3 separate regions of the Homo sapiens genome follow, and regions 1 and 2 are each linked to region 3. Evidence: fine-mapped expression QTL. A gene starts in region 3. Each other region holds a variant in brackets. All regions are shown on one strand. Distances are between the middles of the regions.

The links.
Region 1: its variant is fine-mapped to the expression of LY86 in whole blood (TOPMed, PIP above 0.99).
Region 2: its variant is fine-mapped to the expression of LY86 in whole blood (INTERVAL, PIP above 0.99).

Annotation. Positions count from the first base shown.
Region 1 is chr6:6,620,357-6,628,356 of GRCh38, forward strand. It overlaps LY86 (lymphocyte antigen 86), which reads left to right. Exons shown (of 5, transcript NM_004271.4): 2 at 4,570-4,656; 3 at 5,937-6,065. LY86-AS1 (LY86 antisense RNA 1) reads right to left here and starts at 2,470. Exons shown (of 8, transcript NR_026970.1): 1 at 2,276-2,470. The variant T/A (reference allele first, on the strand shown) is at 4,607.
Region 2 is chr6:6,630,505-6,638,504 of GRCh38, forward strand. The region is part of intron 3 of LY86 (lymphocyte antigen 86); the gene reads left to right. Among named protein-coding and RNA genes, the nearest start is that of LY86-AS1, 12 kb to the left of the region's middle. The variant T/C (reference allele first, on the strand shown) is at 3,945.
Region 3 is chr6:6,584,707-6,593,129 of GRCh38, forward strand. It overlaps LY86 (lymphocyte antigen 86), which reads left to right and starts at 4,014. Exons shown (of 5, transcript NM_004271.4): 1 at 4,014-4,164. The coding sequence starts at 4,029. All of the region lies in intron 1 of LY86-AS1 (LY86 antisense RNA 1), which reads right to left. RefSeq lists enhancers at 377-486, 2,311-2,400, 2,411-2,540.

The DNA.
Region 1 (8,000 bases), 35 kb after region 3:
AAGTAGAGCTAGAATATGGAAAATGGGACTAGCTGTGTAAGAGTTGGGCCCTCCTCTATGCCTCAAACTAACCAGCCAGCAACGCAGAGGCCACAGGGGGCGGAGCTACATCCATGGCCTCCAGGACTTAGGGACATACATCCAAGCTTTCCGGCTGCCTGAAGTCAAATCAAGGATTGGTCCAGTGGAGTGTACCCGGGCCCCCACCATCCTCTGCTGAGGAATTTCACTTCCAGAGTCTGTGTCATTGGATTTTGTCTTCTTCCTACTGATTCCAGTTGAAAGCCCACTGCTAGCTGTTAATAGAAGCCATTCTGACAAGGTTGTCCTCCCCTCGACAGCTGCCCAGGTCTAGCCCAGCCTAGGCCACTAATGGAGGGTGGAAGGCACAACAATACCTTTGGAGCTGATATTTGTTCAAACGCTGCTCACTCTAAACCTGGCTTGTTTATCCAACTCTATTTTACTCCATGAATGTCCAAGAAAACTTTTCTAGAAGAGATTTGATTGTTGCTGCCCTTTGTATGCAAAACAGATGCTGCTGGCTGCTCTCCTAGAGCTCTTCCTCACTTCTGGCAGGGTTCACATGCTGCTGGTTTGGAGAAGCCTGCCTTCGAGGGCCCACATGCCCGGGGGAGAGGGGAGCAGGGGCAGTTTGGGGTGTGCTGGATTCACCCACTATAATGCTGTCCTCCCTTGGGTGGAAGCCATAGAAGTCAACAGGACAGACAGCAAGGGAGTGCCACATAGAGGCCAAGGAAGAAATATTGAAAATGAACAGTCTTCTATTTCGTGATGAAGTTTTGACTTCTTTCCTCAGGTCATTTGCTGAAATACAGTGAAGTATCTGGAGGAAACACTTATCTCTGCCCTTGAATTCCCAGAACGCCAACTCTGATTAACTTTCCGATGTTATTGCTTCAGAAAGTCCAAAGTCAGATGATCCGTCTTACATGTATTAAAAGTTACTGAGGCAAGGGTCCAAGGGAAAGTCTCTCCGCTCTCAGCCTGTCCGTCACTGTTCATACTGTAGAAGGAGAACTACTTTAAAATGCAACCTACCATCTTTTATATTGGTAGGTGATTCTGAGGCATTTGCAGGATAGGTAAAGCCTGGAAATTGATACAGTGATTATTTAAAGCAGTGATCGCCACCAGGGGTGAGTTTATCCCTCATGGATACTTTGGTAAGGTCTAGAGATATTTTTGGTTTCACAACTAGAGGGTATGGGGATGCTACTGGCATCTGGTGGGTAGAGACCAGGGATGCTTCTAGACATCCTATGATGTGCAGAACAGCACCCACCACAAAGGATATCCAAAACAAAATGTCAATAGTGATGACATTGAGGAATCCTGCTTTAAGGTTCTCGGCAAATTTACTACAAATAACCACTACTATTCATCCAGCAAACAATCACTGGAGATTTAGTATGATATTAAGACATTATGTATAGCCCTGGCACTGGGGAGTTAGCTTTGCAGTATCTAGTGGAGGAATGACAGAGGTATACAAACAAATATAATGTAATATAAAACATGCAAAGTGCCTGAGTGGAAATGCAAATAAATACAGAGAAGGATATGAGTTTGAGAGGGTGGGGTTGGGGGAGGAGGAAGAACCAATGTCACTTTCCCCAAGAGGACCACAAACTGCATGTTTACACTCAAAGATATCACTCTTGCATATAAATTTGAAATAACTGCTAGGAAAGCTCACCAAACCCTTAAGCGCTTTTTAAGCAATCTGTCTTTCTGCTTTTATATACATATCCTCAGAGAGATGCAGCCTACAGCTTTCTTTGTGACTTTGTTCTTTATTGAGATTATTTTCCTAACAACAATGTGTTTCTAGTACCAAGAAAATGCTTTATTTCCTTCTCCCGCCCTTAGTTGATTCTTTCTATCTATACCTTTAAAATATTGATAAACATACAGTGTAATTCTATAGCTGCTAATCAACAACACAATACGTACTTAGCCTCTTTTATTTTGCCTGGATAGCAACTTAAATTTATCCACAATTTTGAGGATTCACCTTCCTAAGCATCTGTTCATTGGCTTCTGTCTTTTTCAATACTGAGTGCCAAGGATGTAGCAGGAACTATCGTCTCCAACCCCCTGCTCCTATTTTCCAGGCTGAAAGAAACCCTGGGACAGCACAGAGATACTTAGGAAGGAGTCCAATGAGCATAAGACAAAAGGGCTCTTTCCCACCCTTAGGAAAATTAGTGACTGGACCAAAGGGGTTTTGATCAAACAAAAGTGTACTTACGTTAGATTTGCAAGGCTGAAATTGCCTAGTGATCATTTCCATTGCAGATATCATAGACAATGATGCATCTTCCAGGTCAGCAATGTGGATGATAAAACTGTCTGGAACACTACATTGGCAAATGTGAGCTCATAGCTAAGCTGAAATGGAAATCAGTTATGAAACAGAACTACCAGATGCCATATGCCTGCACACAAAATATTCTGGGCAATCTTACAAATCAAATAAGTAACATATGTAGTTGAGGTTCTACTTTGTGAGTTTCACTGCACAATACCCGGGAGCAATTTGTTTGTTTGTTTGGTTTTAACTCTGGCTTTGAATCTTGACTCTGACACTTTCTAGTGTGGGGATCTAGATAAGTTAATACAACATCTCCGAGTCTATATTTTCGTAACAGTAAAATGAGGTAAATCATACCTATCTCTTCAGATTATTGTTTATTCTGCAGGTCTGGGTGCTGTCAGGAAAACGAAGACCATATCAGTTATTTTAACAGAGAGAATTTGATATAGGAAGTTGGTTAGAGAACCAGTTGCTGGAGAACCAAAAGAGCAAAGAAAGGACCCCTGAAGGCTGGGAGAGCAAAAGGCAGAGGTTGTGGGGATTAGAAACTGGATGCTTGACAGAAGGACCCTGTGGAGCTGAGACACAGGCTGCTAAGGAAAGGGTGACAGCTTCTGATGTGCTGTTACTGCAGTAGCTTAGGGCCCCGCAGAGCTGAGTCTCAGCTGAAGCTGGGAAGGTGCAAGAGAGCTGGAAACTGGAACCAACTGCCACTGCCAACATGATGGGCCATCACCAGTGACACTCCCAGCAAGTACTCACGAAGGAGCAAGTCCCTTCTTCGACTCCAGCCTCCATCTCTCTGCTACCTTGACTGGCAGACAGTGAAGGAGAAACATGATTACCGAGAGCCCAGTGAAAAAGCAGAGGAAAGAGGGCTGGATTTGGAGCTGAGAAACAGCCCCAATATATGGCCCATCCATTCACTCAACATGTACATTTATGGAGTGCTTACTGTGGATCAGACTGTGAGGCTGTGAGGCTCTCTGCTAGGTGTTGGGGAACCTAGAGAATTAAATGGAAAACACTCCTAAAGTACAAGGCTCAGCTATTAGTACAAGGTAAACCCTCTGTTAAAAATAGCTCTCCTATCTCCAGTCCAGTGGGAAACATAAAGGAAAAGGAAATGGAAAGCAAAACAAACAAAACAAAACAAGAAACCAGCTCTGGCCTTTAAGAAATCTCATGTTTAGATTCAGTGTTGCAGGATAAGCCACGTAGCAAAGTGCAGAGTGATACATGTTTGTACACTTTACCAAGAATGCCAGACATCGCTGTTTTAAGAGTTCAAGGAAGCAAGAGAATATATGGGGGCAGGGAAGCCTTCACAAAGAAGATGGGAATGAGCAAGACCTGAGGATTTAGATAATGGCCAAAAAGACTAAGACCATTGCAAATGGGAGAAAGCACACAAGCAAATCAAACATGGTGGGAATGTGCTGGTGTGTATGTTGCCACTCTGGCCTCAAGGAATGAAGGATGGATTTGTGATGTGGAGGATGGAAGTTGGAGCCAGTCGCTCATTTCTGGACTGTATTCTGAGGCATAGATAAGCCATTGGAGCTTTGTGAATGAGCAGAAGTTGTATGCAGAAAATATTATCTTTATAGCCCCTATCATATCTAACACAATACCTTGTACATAGTGGAATATTTGGAGGAGGAAGCATTACATTAAATGGGATGGGATGGGATGGGATGGGATGGGATGGGTTGGGATGGGATGGGATAAAATGGAATTAGAAAGGCAGGTCTTAACTTTGAAAATCTTTTTAGAAAATATTTTGAGCCTAAGTATTAATGTCTACTCAAGCTCTCCTAACTTTTGTATCTCCCTCTGTTTTGATAATAATAATAGATACTTTATTAAATCCGCTATGCAATCCATGAGCAATTTTAAGGCCAAACGTTCAGGAACTAAAAAAATTCAGGCAATGATAAACATTTTCTATGATAAAAACATTAACAAGTAAAGATATAACCCAACTAGCAAGACCCTGTTTATTCCATGGATGGAGGCCCCCTGTTGTCAGAGTGAACATGATGTTGGCTTTGAAGACACGGGGGGGAGCTGATGAAAATATCATGGGCTTATTTTAAAAAGTGTTGGGCAATATGCTTTTGAATAAATGTAGCAATTCATGTGAAAACAATATTGTTGCAAATTTTGAATATGTTTGCAAAATATACGATGTACTCGCAACTAATCTATTGTTTTCTTCTTCGTAGATCCATTACAAGATTTTGGCTTTTCTGTTGAAAAGTG[T/A]TCCAAGCAATTAAAATCAAATATCAACATTAGATTTGGAATTATTCTGAGTAAGTAAAAAAAATGATTAGCATGAAATAAAACATTGCACAGCCTCTTCCAACTCCACACACCCAATGACTTATGTTAACTGTAATGACTGGCTAAACTACTGTTCCCTCACCACTCTCTGGAATTAACTCTATTTATATCTTCATTTTCAAATCTTTCTCTGGGTTATATTCAGGTAGGGTAGAACTCTCACTTAAAGCTGTACTTTTGTATTAAAAAGACTCTAGGCACTCATTTGGATGATATAAGCACCTGGAATCAGTATACCCAGCAAAAAAAAAGGAAAATATTTTGAGATTAAGTATTAATGTCTACTCAGGATCTCCTAACTTTTTTAGTTATCTCAGCAACAAATAAATCTACTACCAGCGGTACGGTTTGTCATTTGTGTTATTTTGTATCCCAAATAGTTAATACAAATTCTTAAACTTTGACATCGGCAAGGAGGAGATGTAATATTTTCTCTCCTACCCCAATCAGTAAGCTAGAGCACTTTCTGATTGTTTAATTTTCATATGATCATGCAATTATAGTTGGTCAATATATTTTCTATAGCTACTAGACGACCTCCTTTTCCAAAGCAGTTATATCAAAATCAAAGTAGAGAGGTTTAATAAACTTAGCATGTGGAATCATTCCAGAGAAATGGAGGGAACATTCATAGAAATCAAGAACTCTCACGCATCTTTGTATTTCTAGAATCTTACACAGTATCTGGACTCTAGCAGCAGCTGGAGAAATGTTATGGGGAGAGAAAAAGCGAGAAAAGAGAAATAGAAGAGTGGGTGGAACATAAAAGGGAGGAATGGAGAAAAAGAGAGAATTGGAAGCCACCACCATGGAACCCGCTGCAGCTTCCTGTGCACCTGTGCTGCAATACCTCCCTGGCAACAGCAGCAGGTGTATGTAGGCGTGACCACACCCCACCGCCATCATGGGGAACAAATGATACTATGCAACTGAGAAATTCCAGAAGCCAGACCTGCAGACATCACATTAAAAGGCCATAGCATCAGGGTGGGGAGCTCAGCTGATTAACTACCTTGTTCCAAGCAGGTATTTTGAGAAACAGCCACCTTTCATACGCAGGGCCCCATCATAATCCCCTGTAGCATTGCCTAAATGCTGTTTTACCAAGGAAAGAAGAAAACTGTTCCCCACACAGAGAAGATTAATGGAAACAAAAGGTTCTTTAGCTCATGCTGCTGTATACTGTGAATGCCTCTGATACACAGTGAAACACGCAGTAAGAGTAAAGCTGTTCTTCTCTTTCCTCCAGGAGAGGACATCAAAGAGCTTTTTCTTGACCTAGCTCTCATGTCTCAAGGCTCATCTGTTTTGAATTTCTCCTATCCCATCTGTGAGGCGGCTCTGCCCAAGTTTTCTTTCTGTGGAAGAAGGAAAGGAGGTAAGCCATCTGTCTTGCTCACTGCTGGCAGGGGCCTGCAGAGAGATAAACTCGAACTTGCATCTGAGGCCAGGACGCCCAGACCAGAGCTCTGTCTCTGCCCCTCGCCTTTGGACGAGCTTATCCTCACTTATCAGCATGTGTTGCAGAAAAATAACAATAAGGCCCATTCCATAGGCCTACCTTACAGGGCTGTTGTGAATATCAAAATGAAATGACACGTATGAGATGCTTTAAAACAGAACATTGTTACTGTGAGTAGCAGCATCTTATAAAAAAGGGCTGGCAGCAGAAAGAGCCAAGAGGTTCCAAAAATCCATTGAGGTTCAGAGTGCTCCCAGGTTTTCCCTCCACAACTTCCTTAGTGGCAGGATGTCCTTAATATAGTAATGGACTTCAAAAACGAAAAAAAAAAATGAAGCTTATGATATGTCACCACCTTTCCCACGTGGGTCATTGACTAGCAGGGCATCCGGGAGTTACACTCGAAGTAGAGAAACGGAAACCCCATTATATTAGCTACCTTTTCGGCAGTGCACCAACCCTCTACCGCCTGCCATACAGCCTTGAAGAAAGGGCAGGTCACCTTCCCCCACCTGTCCCCACCTCTCCTTTCCTCCTTGTCTTTACCCACAGCTTCACCAAGGCCCTGAGATGCTTCCGCGGTGTGGTTAAAACCTGGCTCTATTCTCTGACTGTCCTTCCCCAGGAGTGGTTCTCTCCCAGCTGCTCTCCCCTCCCAGGGTCTCCTTCCTACTCCCACTGGCCAAGGCAGGGCATACCCCCAATACACCCCTCACCCCACATCTCAGAAATACTCCTTTATCTATTTTCTCATTCAAGAGAGCTAGAATTTTAAACAGTAAATTCCTTGTGAAATGCTGCAATTACTCCTTTTAAATGAAAGATCTAGAAGAAATTGGAATCTCCTTTCTACAGTGAGGGATGCAGACAAAAGAAAACAAGGAACTTAAGGGAGGATTGGCCAGATGGAAGTCGGGGGAACTTTGCTGGGATCTGTAGAGGGCAGAACCAGCCTGGCTGCCTCACCACCCTCGCCATCCCTCCCGAGTGTGTGGCACATCACTGTATCCTAGCGTTTGCCATGTTGGACTGTCCTGGTTTACTGCCGTGTATCTTCCACATTGGACCACGAGCTGCTTGAGGGTAGGGTCATATCACCTTTGTCTTTTTATTCCCAGTATTTCAAATGTGGCTGACACACAGAGAGCTCTGAATACAGACACACGCAGAGCAAAATGCCTAACACGATTGAGCATTCGTACCAGGCCCTGTTCTAAGAGCTTTAGACCCAATAAGTCATTTACTTCCCACACCAACCTTACAAGTTAATACTACATTAATATTCCAACTTCATAAATGTGTAACTGAAGCACAGAGGGGTTTAGGAACTTGCACCAAGTCACAGAGCTTGAAGGATCCATGGCTTGAACCCAGGCAGGCTGACTCCAATCTTAGCTTTAATGAATGAATGAATAAAAGAACAAACAATACAACAAATGAGTGTGTCTTGCTTTTGGCCAAGGGGTTTATTTAAAATTATCATTTCAGAAATCTTTCTGCCCAGTGATCTGACTTTGTTTCAAATTGGGACTTTTTTTTTTTTCTTAGCTAACCCACCTTAAAATCATAAGTCAGTTTTCCTCTCTCAACTTACTGGAGACATTTCTGATTAATCAAGTACGTTCATGCATTTCCTCAGAATGGTGAACTCATCATTAGTCCGTCCCTATTTAACTTTTTCCACCTGCCCTCAGCTGGGCCAACCCCGAGCTCCTCAACCACAGTCAGTCCTTTCTCCTTCCCTCCCTCCCTCCCTCCCCTTCCTCCTTCCCTCCCCTTCCTCCCTCCCTCCCCTTCTTCCTTCTCTCCCTTCTCTCCCCCATCCCTCCCTCCCTTCCTCCCTTCTTCAGC
Region 2 (8,000 bases), 46 kb after region 3:
TGCTTTCAAACAGGTTCCATAAGCTACACATCCACTTTTAAGACTAAATTGAGCTTCATTGAATGTCCTTAATGACCACAACTAATTCCTAGCCCAAAGGAGGGAAGCTGCAGCCAACTCCCTCAATCCTCAAGAACAACAATGCCGATAGAACCCCTGTGTGATCCGGGAGCTTTGGTCTGGTCTGCAAACACCAAGCGCGCCGTTACCCCAGTGGGTCTCCATCTTGGTCGCACATTAACTGCTCCTGTGCTTTCTGAAGCAATGACCACAAGCCACAGGTCGCGACTGAGCCCTGAAATGTAGCCAGTCTGAATAGAGATGTGCTGTAAGTGTAAAGTACAGACTCAGTTTCAAAGCTTTAGTCTTAGAAAAAGAATGTAAAATATCTCTATCATTGTTCCACTGGTTATGTGTTGAAATGTTAATATTTGGAATATACTGAGTTAAGTAGAATTTATCATTAATATATTATTTTAATCATTTATCAATGATAAGATATTAATATTATATTAAAATTAATTTCAACTTTTAAAATGTGGCTCCTAGAAAACATAAAATTATATGTGTGACTCTCTTTAATGTTTTTACTGGCAGCGCTGCATTATTATCTCCCTTTATAATTTTGAAGCTCCCAACATCCAGGCCATACCCCAGACCAATGATATCAGAATCTCTAGGAGTGAGAGCCAAGCCAGGTGGTGACCAGAAGTGCTCTGTGTTGAGAATATGGGAGGAAAAAACTGTTTTTTCCTACATACACCCTCATCTTATCAGATGAGGAAATTGAGTCTAACTTACCCAAGGTCACAAAGCCAGCGGGGGGTGGAACTGGGTTTCTGTCCAGCTCCAAACCCCTCTGCTGTATATCTTCTGTAAACATAAAGAAAGCTTTGCTAGAGAAGAAGTAAACTCATTTCAGCCCTCCACTAAGACCGGAAAAAGATTTAAAGGGCATAACAAAATTATAGAAATCAAAGGATCATCTTTGGGCATAACCAGCCATTATTATAAGGCAGTGGTTCTCAAAGTGTGGTCCTCAGACCAGCAACATCAGCATCATCTAGGAAATTATTAGAAATGGCAGATTCTTGGTCCCTACCCAGACGTACTGAATCAGAAGCTCTGGGGTTGGGGCTTAGTGATCTGTATTTTAACAAGCCTTTTGGGCCATGTGTTGGCAAACTTTCTTCTGGAAAGGGAAGGATAGTAAACATTTTAGGTTTTGCAGACCATATGGTCTCTGTGGCAATTGCTCAACCCTTCCCTTGCAGAGATAATATGAAAATGAGTGGACATGGCTGTGTGCCCAGATTACATGAAGTGAGGTATGTCTATATCTGCTGCATGTATTTTATAATTGATTTGGCTTTGTTTAATTTATGGACACTGAAATTTAAATTTCATTTAATTCTTACATGTGGTGAAGTATTATTCTTCTTTTGACTGATCAGTCCTGCTCTAAGTGGTTCTGTGGCATGTTAACTTTTGTGAACCACTGCTAGAAGGTAAGTCAGAATCCAGGGCTCTTAGCCAGAGTTACTGAGCACAGGTATGCGGGGGCTGTCACCAGGTGGACACTTGACCTGAGCTGCAGCATAAATTCAGATCCAGGACACCAAGGACAATGCCACACCTGTGCTTTGACTCTGCTTTATAAGACCTGTGCCAAAAAATTAGATTTGGGGCAAAAGGGACTTAACAGATAGGCTGGTCAGAGTGGCAGCTGGCAGGAGGAAGAGCACCTTAGGAAAAAGCCAGAGAGCAGGCCTGGAGGTCTCCTTCCCTCCCCACAGCTGCCATGGACAGTCTGGAGGGCCATTACATTTCTCTATTTCTCAATTACTGCATCTATCAAATGAGAGTGGCCATAATTCATTATTGGGTAAGAGTGGAGACTAAATAAGATATGTGATGTGTCTGACGCGTTAGAAATCACAGCACTGAGTCCCTGGGCTTCCTCCCCTACCCGAGGGACCTTGAGGCAGAGGGTTGGAGCATTTTGTGAAAACTGCAGGGCTGATTGATAAACTCTGGTGGGTCTGTCATAGAAACAGGCCAGAGGACTCAAACTGGTTCACCATAGAGCCAGAGGAGCAGCCAGTCCATAACATCTCACACTGCCAACCTGCTCAGGATCCCAGAATTTCCTGACCAGTAACTGAACAAGTCTTTCATGGCTATGTTGTTCTGTTCTGTTTTGTCTTCTTCCTTTGATCTAAGGTCAGCCTCTAAAATTTTTATTTTCTACCACTGGCTTGACTTCCATCCAGAATGCATAATCTTAGGAATGTCTACTCCCTTCAAGGGAACCTGACATCTATCAAAGTGTGATCTGTCACCCTAGCCCACAATAGTCTGACATAAAGACTTTTCCCAAAGTCTGGGTTTGTCAGCACTCACCAGCACCACACATGAGACACCCACAGCCCTGTCTAGCTTGGAATGGAGTCAAGTTCACTCCAGTCTCTTTCAGTCTCTGATTTATCAAGCGTTCAACACATGTTGATGTCCACTCTCAATGAGGTTCATTTTGTTCAAGCAGTTTCCTAGAATATTCCACGTCAGGAAGATGAAAGTGAAATAAGTTAAATAGAGCCAAAATTTGGTTGTAAGATGTACTGTGGAGCCTGAAACTCAGGTATCACCCTGGGAAGTAGAAGCAACACTTCATTCTTGCTCCACAAGCTCTACCCAATTAAAAAGTGGAGAGAAATGACTTAAAGGTGGCTCATGTTTGGACTGTCAAGAATATATTGTGTAGGGCCGTGGAGACGTGAGGTTCTCAACTGGAAGTGAACCTGGCGATTTGGGTAGAGACTCAGATTAAAGCCATAAAGTAAATAGAATGAACACATGATTTTCTTTCTTTTTAAAAATTGTTTTATATTATTTCCAACTTCTATTTTAAGTTCAGGGGTACATGTGCAGGATGTGCAGGTTTGTTACATAGTTAAACGTGTGCCATGGTGAATAACTGCACAGATCATCCCATGATGATCTGTGATACCATCCCATGATAACACCTAAGTATTAAGCCCAACGTCTATTAGCTATTTTTCCGATGCTCTCCCTCCTCCCATCCCCCACCCTCCAACAGACCCCAGTGTGTGTTGTTTGCCCCAATGTGTCCAAGGAACACATGATTTTCACACTTGATAATAAGAGACATGTCAACTATCAAACCTGGTTCTGGCCAAATTTCTATGAGTTCTGACCAGGGTAGATCAACCCAGGCAAAGTGGCCTTGGTTCCATAACACCAAGTGAGTAATACTCTTTCAAAAATAATTTGTGTATTGATTCACAGACTGACTTGCAGATATCAATTGTACACAACCTACTGCCAAAATCAACTGAAATTAAAGGCTTAAGCGAGTTAAATAAATTGTGTGTGTGTGTGCATGTGTGTATACACTGAGTGTATATGATTATGAATTAGAGTATCTGTAGGTCAAGGAATCTTCTTTGAGACCTTGAAAGCTGCGATTGATGTAATTCAACCAATGAAAACCTGAGAGGACTTAATTATGCCTTATTCATGTCAGGATCCGAGAGAGGTGCAGAAGATAATGGTGCCCACAAGAACTGCTGATTCATGGCGCATCCATGCCTGCACAAGCCACTTCTCAGTATGAGCAAAATCCATTATGAAACACATTCAACAGATACACATACCTCCCTGTGTGCAAATGCAAGCTAGAGAAAATAATTAGGTTTAAACTTGATTTTAAATGCATTAATATTTAAAGCTTGCAATTAAAAGAAATATGATGACACCTTTTGCAATCTGAAGAATCCTCTAGTTGAGAAAATAACTGGTCCCTGGTTTATCTTTTGTGTAAATCTGAACTTTCCTACTGTTTGACCGAAGTGAGAAATACATTATAATGAGATGAATTTCAATATAAAACAGAGTAGATCCCCTGAGAACTGTATTTAAAG[T/C]CTGGCATAATATTGCCCATAAGGCAGATATTTTTGTGACAGCATCCAAGAGATTCTGTTGTAATGCTCACTGATTTTATACATACAAATAAGTCAAAGGTGTAACCACGGTGGGTGCTTGTGGTTACCCATCTTCCCTTCCTTTTCATTACGTTTCTTAATTAGATGTTTCTCTTCTGGTCCTGGTTCATGCTGAACACTAGGACCTGTGATCCTCCCAGTATCATTCATTGCAGAGCCTTCTCAATCTCACTGTCTGCATCAATTCAAAATTCTGTCTTAACAATAATATCTAGATCAGCAGTCAGATCCCATCAGTTAGATTTCTATGGCCTCCTCTATTTCTGTTTCAATGTGCTCCTTTCCACAGATCTAGGAAATGAAGGGAATTTGGGGGGAGTGCTGGGAATGCAATCTGTTTACTGCCTAGATTTGGAAAAAATCCACAAATGCTTTCTGCAAAATGCCTTACCCTCTGCGCTGCTGGAGTAGAAGACAGGGCTAAACCACCTTCCCAGCAGGTGCTACTTGAAGAAATTAATCTATGCTGATGACCTGACAACCTCTCTAAAGCATGCTCCCAGCCATGGCCCCACTACCATGGGCTTCATGATTCAGTTGTTTCATGTTCACTGCACATACATTAACAAATGCAAGCCCAGGAATTCAGGCATTGATTTAGGCTATAACAGAAGGGGAATAAGCAGCTTAACAGAAGCCTAAATTTAAAAATACAGTAGTCTCCTCTTACCTGATAGGGACATGTTCCAAGACCCCCAGTGCATGCCTAAAGCCATGAATAGTAACAAATTTTATATTTACTATTTTCCCCATATATACATATACCTATGATAAAATTCAATTTATAAATTAGCCATAGTTAGAAATTAACAATAACAACTAATAAAATAGAACAATTATAACAATTTACTGTAATAAAAATATGTGAGTATGGTCCCTCTTTCTCTTCCTCTCTGCCTTTCTCTCTCACTCTCTCTCTCCCTTTCTCTCTCTCTCTCAAAATACCGTAACATTTTCAGGCCACAGTTGACCACAGGTAATTGAGACTGCAGAAAGTGAAACTGCAGATAAGGGGGACTATTGTCTACTGTACATGTTTTCTAGGGTATCACCTATGTTATACTTGTTTGCTCACCTTTGATTTCTGGGCCATTTTAGACTTCCTGCTCCTTCAAAAGCTGCAGGCTTTCCATCCCCGCACTTCATTCCCAACCTTCCCCAATCCTAGCTTCTGGTCCTGCCCTTCAACTGCTGCCAGTATCCCCAGTGACAAAGTGGCTGAGATGGGAACTCATGTGCCTTGGCTCCTCTTCTCGTGGATGGATCTATAGAGCCATGGAGGGAGTGCTAGCTTTCTGTGACCTGGAAAATTGCACTATTTCACCTGCCATTATTATCCCCACTGTCATTTTGTAGCTGCAGGCAGCATGTTACCAAAACCAATATTATTATGGAAGCATTTCCTGTCCCCTGACTCATCAGACTGCAGTGCTGCCGCTGGAGAGCAGAGACCTTAGCCCAGTCCAGTGGTTCTCAACCTTGAGCAGGCATCAGCATCACCCGGAGCCCAGGTTCAACCACAGTTGCTGGACCTAGCCCCAGGGTTTCCAGTTTCGTACATCAGGTGGGGAGTCTGAGAATTTGCATTTCTTACAAGTCCCCCAGTGAGGCTGATGATGCTGGCCCAGGGACCACACTTTGAGAACCTCTAGCCTGGTGGTTATGCACAAGATTTGAAGCCAGACCTACATAGAGCTGAATCTTTACTGCCACTTACCATTTATGTGAACTCAGACAAGTAACTTAATCTCTCTGAGCCTCAGTTTCGTCATCTGTACAATATAGAAAATACAAGTGACCTCATGGGATAGTCATAAGGATAAAATGGGATAATACACATATAGCCCATAGAATGGCGTTCTGCACACAGCAAGCATTCAATAAGTGATCCATGGCAGCAACTTTGTGCAGCTGATGACAGGTTTCTCAAGCAAGGGCCCTGAGCCCCTCAAGTCATCATCTGTCTCAGACTGGAAGTCTGCATTTTAACAAGGCCCATGAAGAGGCAGTGGAGTCATTGAGGCTTAGAAGTTTAAGACCTTTTCCTTACAGGTAGCAGGAAGATGCCTTTGGTCTAAGCCTGCATATTTTCTGATGGTTGAACAAGGCGAAGTTTCCCTGGCCCTCTTGTCCCTGTGGGGAGAGAGTGTCATTTGCATCTCTCATGGAATTGGAAATTTGAAGCACCATCATCTCCCCTTCATTCCTTTCTTCCTTTCATGTATTATTCCTTGTCTCCAGACTTCAATGGTAGATTTCCTGCTTGTAAATACCAGGCAGCTGCTGCTGCAGCAAATTCATGCAGAATCACCAAAAACAATGGTTTACTTATTGCATTAGCCGAACTCCTACCCTCGAACTGCAAAAAAAAAAAAAACAGAACTAAAAGCAGTAGCCACCCTCTAGAGGGTACAAGCAATGACTAAGCAAAAGAGTACTTTTTCTTGCTAAATGGAATGAAAGGAAGCATATTGGTTTTTTTTTTTTTTTTTTTTTAATGAGAAGGAGTCTCGCTCTGTCGCCCAGGCTGGAGTGCAGTGTGATGTGATCTCGGCTCACTGCAAGCTCCGCCTCCCAGGTTCATGCCATTCTCCTGCCTTAGCCTCCCGAGGAGCTGGGACTAGAGGCGCCCGCCATCACGCTCGGCTAATTTTTGTATTTTTAGTAGAGACAGGGTTTCACCTTGTTAGCCAGGATGGTCTCAATCTCCTGACCTCGTGATCAGCCCACCTCGGCCTCCCAAAGTGCTGGGATTACAGGCGTGAGCCACCGCACCTGGCCACATACTGTTTTTTAAGGAATTCTAGAGCCCTGGGTGCTTTCTCCCCATCCTCAAATGCAAGCATGTTTGTAAATGAGCCAACCATGCTGCAACTGTACTTTGACATCAGTCAATTCTTTATGTTCCTTGAGCCCAGCATACTATGACTAAGGATGACCTAGGACCAGAAATACTTTTAATTTTCTAAGACAAACTTCTTTACAAATCCTTGACCGTTATGGAATTTCATAAATCCAGCTCAGTGACATACTTTGATGTAATAATCGTTTAGGAAGCTAATTAAGATGGCCAACTCACGACTCCCCCACATCACCCACTTGGATCCCAGAGCTGCTGGTATTTGCATTTTAAGAAACTAAACATCCCGAGAGCCCTGAGTGTGTGAGCCCGGAGCCCCCCAGTGTGAGAAACGCAGCCCTCTGTGATGTCTGTTTGTTTAGCTTTCCAGTCGCATTACTCTTTCCCAGGGTTGCCCAGGTTTCTGAGGATCAAGTCAATTTCTTCTCTTTGCTTCCATCATCATCTACTTCATTTCCATTTCTAGGAATCTAATCAGCCCACCAATTTATAAGTCGTATTTTGAATGTCGTATGAAGTATTTGTCCACAAAATTTAGGAACTGGTTGGTAGGTGGAACAAAAAAACTTAAATTCTTTTTGTTTTGCTGCTGGAAGTTAGGTATCTCTCAGAGGGGGAAGCTGGACAGCAGACAAACAGGGCTTGCAGACAGAATGCCACTGAAAAAGTCATTTTCCCTGCTAGGCCCCGCTTCCTCAGCAACGACTAAATAGTCGGCACCATCCAGACAGTAGCTACTGGCCCCTGCAGCCATTAAGTACTAGGAGCATGGCCAGTCCAAAGTGAAATGTACAGAATACACACCGGATTTTGAAGACTTAGTACAAAGTATGAAAAAAATAATGTAAATATCTCATTAAGACTCTTTATATTGGTTCCATGCTGAAATGGTAATATTTTTAATAAGTGGGTTAAACAAAATATATTACTAAATTAATTTCACTTATTTCCTCTTCCTTTTTTTGTATAGTTACTAGAAAGTTTTATGTCGCATATATGGTTCACATTATATTTCTCTTAGCCAGTGCTGATCTAGAATTGCACTGTCCAATATGACAGCCACAAGTCACATGTGGCTATTTGAAGAATTTACATTTAAGTTAAATTAAAAATTC
Region 3 (8,423 bases):
CGCTATGCAAAGGGAAATTTTTGCCTAATATAATAAAGATCTGAGGGAAATGAGAGGAGAGCACCCACAGTCGGATACAAATGATGAGGAAGGTACATTTGCCACTGGAGACAGAGTGCTACATCATCACTGTGTAGCGTCAAGACTAGTTAGGACTGTCTGCCATCTACTGGCACATGTAATGTAGGTTACATTGGCCCAAACCCCCTTTCCCTGACCTTTTGTGGGTCACAGAGTGGAGAGGGCTGTCACATTGCACACTGCACAGGAAGCAATGCAGAATCTGTTCCTAAGGGACCTTTGCTTGTCCCACCTGCTGGCAGGCTGCTTCCCTCCACTCCACAGCAGCCAATCACCTGCTTATCTCTCCTCTCCCCTTCTCTCCTCCTCTCCTCTCCTCTCTCCCCTCCAGGCCTTTCTTTTTTCTCCCCTCACTCCCTGGAGTATTGTATTTTCTCTTGTGGCACAGCTTCACCCTTACTTGCTTACATACATAGCTGGACTCCTGCCCCCAGAGTCTCACATTTGATTCTTTAAGTCTCTCCTCAAACAAACATTTTCTCCTTAAGAACGGCTTTAGGGATGGTCATCTTGATAAGAATATTTTTACTCTGCAAGAAAAGAAAGGCACCGTCCTCAAGAAGACCTCTATGAAAGGAAAGCAAGGGTGGGTGCAGTGGCTCACGTCTGTAATCCCAGCACTTTGGGAGGCTGAGGTGGGTGAATCACCTGAGGTCAGGAGTTCAAGACTAGCCTGGCCAACACGGCAAAACCCTGTCTCTACTAAAAATACAAAAATTAGCTGGACATGGTGGTACACGTCTATAATCCCAGCTGCTTGGGAGGCTGAGGCAGGAGAATCACTTGAACCCGGGAGGCAGAGGTTGCAGTGAGCTGAAATCATGCCACTGCACTCCAGCCTGGGTGACAGAGTGAGACTTCGTCTCAAAAAAATAAAATAAAATTATATATATATATATATGAAGGAGAGCAGTGTGAGACATGGAAGAAGAGGAGGATTGTCCAAAAAGTAGAAAAGAAATCTGAATGAGACCAGAGCACAGCTTCTTCAGCTACAGCCTGCTAAGAGATTAGAAGTCAGCATCAAAGCCTGACAGTATGTGTGTGTTTGGTTACCATTACGTAGACATAACCATATTTTAAATAACTACCATAAACCGATTCTAATTTTATTCTATAATTAGGGAATAGGACATTCTCAAAGAACACTCTGGCTGTCTTTATAAAGGTTCTAGTTAAAGAACTCCAGACATCATTATGGGTTGATTTCTGAACTAGACGGCCATAACTAATGATTTCAATCAAATCCCATTTTCAGTAGGCAGAACTAGTAAGTAGAATTCCTTAGAGAATGTGGCTTACTCTTAATCCTATATGGGTATGTTATATATGTGTTATATAAAATGCCATCTGTCATAAAACAAAACATTTTATTAAGAAGATTTTTTTTAATTGTACATTCTGCAAATGATCAAATTCTGTAAGCTAAACCAGAGGTCCTCAGAATGTGGCCCCAGATCAACAACACTGGCATCACCTGGGAACATGTTAGAAACACAGGTTCTCAGGCCTCACCAGACACACAGGAGCAGAAACTCTGGGGTGGGGTCCAGCAATCTGCATGTTAACAAGCCCCCCAGCTGACGCTGATGCCCTGAAGACCACTCTAGCCTGAAGACCAATGTCCTAGGGTCACCATGATCACAAGGTTCCTGATTGGTCCATTTGGAATATTTCTAAATGCTAGTGCGATCCCTGAATTATGATTCCTTTCATTTCCAGGTCTTTTGATTCTCAAGAATCTGTACCCCTGTCTTCAGATGACACTGTTTCTGCAATAAAGCCAATGTTTGTGGCCCTGCCCAAACTCATATGTTGAAATCCTAAGCCTCAAGGTGATGGTATTAGGAGGAAAGGCCTTTGGGAGGTGATTAGGTCATAAGAATGGAGCTCTCATACATGGGATTAGTGCCTTTATAAAAGAGGCCTAAGAGAAACCCTTCGCCCCTTCCACCATGTGAGGGCACAGCCAGAAGGCACCATTTGTGAACCAGAGGCCCCTCACCAGACACTGAATCTTCTAGCACCTTAATCTCCAACTTTGGACCTCCACCCTCCAAAATGGTGAGAAATAAATGCTTGTCATTTAAGCCACCCAGTCTAAGGTATTTGTTATGGCAGCCAGAACATACTAAGACCATTTCCCTGCCACAGCTGCCCACAGCTCTCTGCTAGGTTTTCTGCTCCCTGCCCTGCACTCCTGGACTCCTCCTCCAGTGTCAATCATGACGCACTTTGCAGGGAAGGAAGTTCTCACCCTCAATTGCTCTCCTCACTCACATATGTTCAGAGCTCTCTTTACAACTGCTGGAGCACTCACATATCCCAAGGGAAAGCTTCTGTGTTCCATCCTGGACCTTCTAGGGGCTACCACGCTTCCACCAGGGCCGCTGCTCTCACCATAAGCTTCAGACTCTCATCTCCCGAGATCTTGCTCACAGCGCAGCTGCCTTCCGCTCACACAGGCCAGAGGGGCCACCTTGTCTCTTCTTAGAGCAACTTCCCACCACTCCCTTGGGGCTCAACCTTCGCTTTATGTTCTGTAAAAGCCAGCAGTTCTCAAACTTGAGACTGCATCAGGCACACCTGGAGGGCTTGTGAAAATCCAGAATGGTGAGTCCCGCCCCCCAGAGTTTCTGATTTAATAGGTCTTGAGTAGCCCAGAATTTGCATCTCTAACAAGCCCCCAGTGGAAGCTGAGGCTGTCATCTTCCCAGGCCGCACTTTGAGAACTGCTGTTGAAAGCCATCATCACTGAACTTATTTGCAGAGGTACCTAAAAATAATCAATCCACAACTGTTCCTTCTCCAAATGACCACTCTCTGATGTCTATCAAGAAATCCAAATTATTTACCAATTAATTTATTGGTAATTATGTTCCACCTATTTCAAAAAAAGTTTTGAGCTAACTCTAATTTTTGCTTAGCCATCAGCAGAAATAGTAAATTTACCTAGTGCATTCAGAAAAATGCTGTTCCTCCCAGGGAAAATAGTGTTTTCTATTGCTCCTGAAATCTGCTGACCTTGGCACTGACTCTGGTCCTCTTACATTAAGGTGAAGCTGGGGCGGGGTTGAGGAATCAAGACTGAGAAACCTTGCTGTCCTGCAGCAGAATAGAGATACATGGAAGAAGGAAGACAGAATCTTGGCTTTGAAGAGAAAGTGAGATGTGATGTCAATGATCCCACTAACACCAAAACCAGCAAACCAGCCTCCTTAAGGGTGGCCCCACCTCCCCACCCTTCCTACTTTTTCTACCAAGCCAAACCCAGAAATAGAACACGGCTCACTTCTCAGGGCTATTGCCTCTGCCTCATCTCCAGAGACCACATCTGCAGCTCCCAAAACAAGGTCTGTTCTGCAGCTGGACAATTCACTGCTAAAATCCCAAACCTAAGAGCAGAGCCAAAGCCAGAGGAGAGGAAAGTGACAATAGGGCCAAAGCCTCATTCCAGATTCCAAATGTCATTCTGTAGCCCTCGTGCTATCAACTGCTGCCTGCTGGCTGCAGCCAGGTCCCTGGGTCCATACACAGCCTGCATCAAGAGCCTGCAGAGACTCGGGGGCTGGAGATGGGAAACAGATGGTGGCCTGCGCTTTGTCTTTCCCAAGTTTACAGCCTCACCTGGGGGTGGAGGCTGTTCTGAGGGGCCCCCAAGAGGTAAGTTCACGCATCACTACTGACCCTCTCCCTGTGAAAGCAGAAAGTCAGCACGCATCCTACCCCAGACCAGACCAGCCACACCTGTAGATTCAAGGTCCTGGGGGAACAGTATTCAAATGCCTCTGCTCTCAGCCTTTTACTTCTGACTGTGGTTCCCAGCGAGTCTAAAATTTGAGAAGTGAAACTGAACATCCAACTGCCTTGGTGAGGGGAGAGGAAGAAATTTTACAGGCTTTTTATTGGCCGGTTATTTTTCTGTGTGTCCCATACAGGCCCCCACCATGAAGGGTTTCACAGCCACTCTCTTCCTCTGGACTCTGATTTTTCCCAGCTGCAGTGGAGGCGGCGGTGGGAAAGCCTGGCCCACACACGTGGTCTGTAGCGACAGCGGCTTGGAAGTGCTCTACCAGAGTTGCGGTAAGCCCTTGCAGTACACCCATGTGTGTTTATGGGGAAAGCAAGGCCCACAGATGTGAGCCGCTAGTGCTCAGTTGGAGTTGGGGTGGGAGGGGAGAGGGGACCAGCAGCTGAACACTTTCTCCACCTGCAGCAGGTCTGGGAGGGCCACTGGGAGCTTTTGGAAGAAGGAGCGGTGGGGCCAGGACTGGGAGCGGAAGAGAATGGCAGAACAACAAAGAGTACAAGAAAGAGAAATTGAATCTAAATATAGCCATTTACTAACACCACAGAACCCAAAAAAGAACAAAATGATCAGTGAGTCTACCAAATCATCAAACCTCACCAGCTGAAAATTAGGAAAAGCAGCTTCCAGTAGGCCCTTCCTCAACACCGTACACCTGGGCTACCTTTCCATCTGATGTACTTTGCAAGTGAAGTGAAAAGATCACTTCTGCCCAAAGAGAAGATTCCTGTCCCTCTCTGGACACTTTCAGAGCTTTCACTGCAGCAGTAGCTCTCATGAATTCAGCAAGCACTTCGCATGCAGCTATCAATGCCAGGGTTTCTCAGTGCTAGAGATAATAAAAGTGCATATGCCAGGCCTGTCACCCCAGCGGGCCAACCCAATACGCCAACAGATAATTGCAATTCAGTGAAGAGAATGCAGTGAACTGTGGTAAGAAGTGTCAGAACCAACCAATCGGGCTGTGTCTTAGTCAGCTAGGGCTGCCATAACAAACCACCACAGGCTGGGGACTTAAATAACAGATTTATTTCCTCACAGCTCTGGAAGCTGGGCTGGTTTCTCCTGAGACCTCTCTTCTTTGCTTCTAGGTGGCATCTTCTCCCTGTCTCCTCATGTGCTCTTCCCTCTGTGTACATCTGTGTCCTCATCTCCTCTTCTTATAAGTACACAATCATATCAGATTAGGGCCCACCTCCATGGCCTCACTTTAGCTTAATCAGCTCTTTAAAGACCCTATCTCCAGCAGGGCATGATGGCTCACACCTGTAATCCCAGCACTTTGGGAGGCTGAGGAGGGTGAACCACTTGAGGTCAAGCATTCAAGACCAGCCTGACCAACATGGAAAAACCCTGTTTCTACTAAAAATATAAAATTAGCTGGGCATGGTGGCACGCGCCTGTAATCCCAGCTACTTGGGAGGCTGAGGCAGAATTGCTTGAACCCAGGAGGTGGAGGTTGCAGTGAGCCAAGATCGTGCCATTGTACTCCAGCCTGGGCAAGAGGAGCGAAACTCTGTCTTAAAAAAAAAAAAAAAAAAAAAAAAGACCCTATCTCCACATACAGTCACATTCTAAGATACCGTAGTCCCCCCCCAGTCTGCTAGGAATACGTTCCAAGACTCCCAGTGGATGCCTGAAATCATAGATCGTTTTGAACCCTACATATACTATGGTTTTTGGACCCAATAAATGAGACAGCTACTAAGTGACGGACAGGCCGGTAGTAGAGACAACATGGATATTCTAGACAATTCGTGTTCCTGGTGGGCTGGGCAGCACGAGATTTCATCATGCTACTCAGGAGGATGCTCAATGTCAAACTAATGAATTATTTCTGGAATTTTCTATTTAATATTTTTGGACTGCAGTTGGCTGAGAGTAACCGAAACCTTGGAAAGTGAAATCTTGGATAAGGGGGCTGTACTGTACTGGGGGTTGGGACTTCAATACATAAATTTGAGGGGATGCAATTCATCCCATACAGGGCTCCCAAGTGGGGAGCAACTCAGGAGCCCAGCCTCAGGATCACATCTGCTGTTAGAGGGACTGGCTTGTGCAAACGCATGGCATTGTGATATCTGCCACTTTGGAGGGAGATGGGGGCAAAATGCCGTTTGAACTACAGGAGATGGAAAAGAGAAGTTGATTAAGCATCTGAATTGGCCTCACTCTAAGCTGGGGAGTGATGAGGATGCAGTGCTTGAGCAAGTACCTGATCCTACAACTGCCACCCAAAGAGCTGCCCAGAGAGGTCCAGATGGTCACTCTAGTCACCAGGGCCATTTGTTCAATTTGACCTCACTTTTAAAAATAAGGGACATTGAAGTGCACACACACACAAAAATTAAAAATAAGTAAAAGAGAATGAACGACTGGATGCTGGAAGTGCTGATCTTGTCACTCTAGGTTTTCCCATGGCGTCAGGACCACTAGTATCCCATTCATTTTCAGTGCAGGATGAGAAGCAAGATGTGAGATAAATGGACTGGTCAGGGTTGGTTTTTCCAATTCATCCTTGCATAAAGGTTGCCACAGCTGATCTGTCTCCCAGACTCACCCTCTGCCTGCAGCCAGGCTGGTGCATCCTTTCAAGTCACTTGCAAGAGGACTGGGCACGTCAGGGAAAGAACAAGGACACATCACCTGCCCACAGGAGGATGGCTCTTTCCTCTGTAGGTGAAGTTTCCCCATGGAGTCAGTGAATGTCTTAGCCAAGCCACTCAGAATAAGAGATGGAAGAGATGCAGTTCTCATCCAAGGGAGTGGGACGATCAGACAATTAAGCAACAGGGTAAATGCTTTGTGTGAAAGGCTGTAGTGAAGGCAGGCATTGTGCACCAGGGACATAGTAGTCAGACGATGGTGAGGTTGGTATCTGGATCTGTTGGAAAAGGAGTCACCAAGCCTAAGTTGAGGCTTAAAGACTGATGAAAATACTAATGATAACACCTCATGTTGGTGGAGGCCACCAGGCTAAGTACTTTACATGCATCATTCTTATGTTGCAGATGTGTAAACTGAGGGATAAAGATGTTATGACTAGTGAACTTTTCCAAGGCCACACAGCTAATAGTGGCAGAATTATATCCCCAGGGTCACAGAGAAGGTAAGACATTGAGGAACTATTGATGGAATTAAAACAAATTGATCCCCAGCCTGCCTGACTCCAGAACCCATGCTCTAAAACTCCCTGTGGTCTAGAGTTTAATCAGCAGGCAAAGTGGACTAAAGGAGGGGTGAGAGGAGAAGTTTGGCAGAGACAATGACATGCGTGAAGGCAGGAAAATGGGACCAGGCACAGGGTTCAGGGAACTGCGGGAGGGCTGAAAACACAAAGGGCTGAAAGAGGAAGTGGAAGACATGAGCAAGACCCCAGACAATGGCGGGCTGCCTCCCTTTGGCCAGGAGGTTGCATTTTGGAAAGATCCTCGGGCAGTAAGCAGGAGTGTAGATTTTGAATTGGAAGCTATTTGAGGCTGAAAATAGGGTTTTCTCCAGGTGGAGCAATAATTCAGGAAAGAAACCACTAAGGCCTAAGTTGACATCATTTCCGCAGTCTTGATAACCTTGAGGAGAAGGGAAACTTCACAAGCAGTTACTGGGCTCTGAATACTGACTAGGAAGTAAGCAGTTTTCTGAAAAAGCAGAAGTCCTGGCCTGGCCAACTGTCAATGACACAGGAAAGAAGAGAGCCACTGTCTTTACTAAAGCAAAAGGAGGAGCAAACACAGTCAGGGCCTTGGGTTTGCTAAATCACGAGTCCCACGGTTACAAAAGCCCAGAGACTCCACTCCATGCACAAACCACAAACACCCACCGATATATTTATTTATATGCTGCCTCCAGCATATACACGAAGATGTGAGGAGATGACAGAAATACTTATGATTGGAAGGGGAAATAAGCAGCAGTGGAAGAAGCAGGGTGAGGGGAAGCATAAGGGAAAGTGCTATGGACTGAATGTTTGTGTCCCCTGAAGATTCATGTTAAACCCTAATCCCAGTGTGACAGCATTAGAAGGTGGGGCCTTTAGGAAGTGATTAGATCATGAGAATGGAGACTTCATAAATGGGATTAATATCTTAAAAGAAGAGGCCAGAGATCTCTTTTCACCACATGAGGACACAATGAGAAGGTGGCTGTCTGTAAACCAGGAAGCGAGCCCTCACCAAGAACCTGCTCCTGCTGGCTCCCGGATCTCAGATTTCAACCCTCCAGGACTCTGAGAAATCAATGTTGGCTGTTTAAGCCCCCCAGTCTATATAATTTGTTAAACCTGCCTGAGTTGGCTAAGGGGAAATCATAAAGGCAGGAGAGGTTAGGACACATGTAACAGATAGAGCAGCATGAGAGGTAAGAGCTTAGAATCTGGAGTCAGCAAAGCTCATTCAAATCTTGGGCAACACTCTAGATCTCATGTTATTGTTTGTAAGGAGGGTGTATTCGTTTCCTGTTGTTGCTGTGACAAATTTCTACTTGGTGGCTGAAAACAACACATGTATTTGCTCATAGTTCTGTGGTCAGAGTCCAA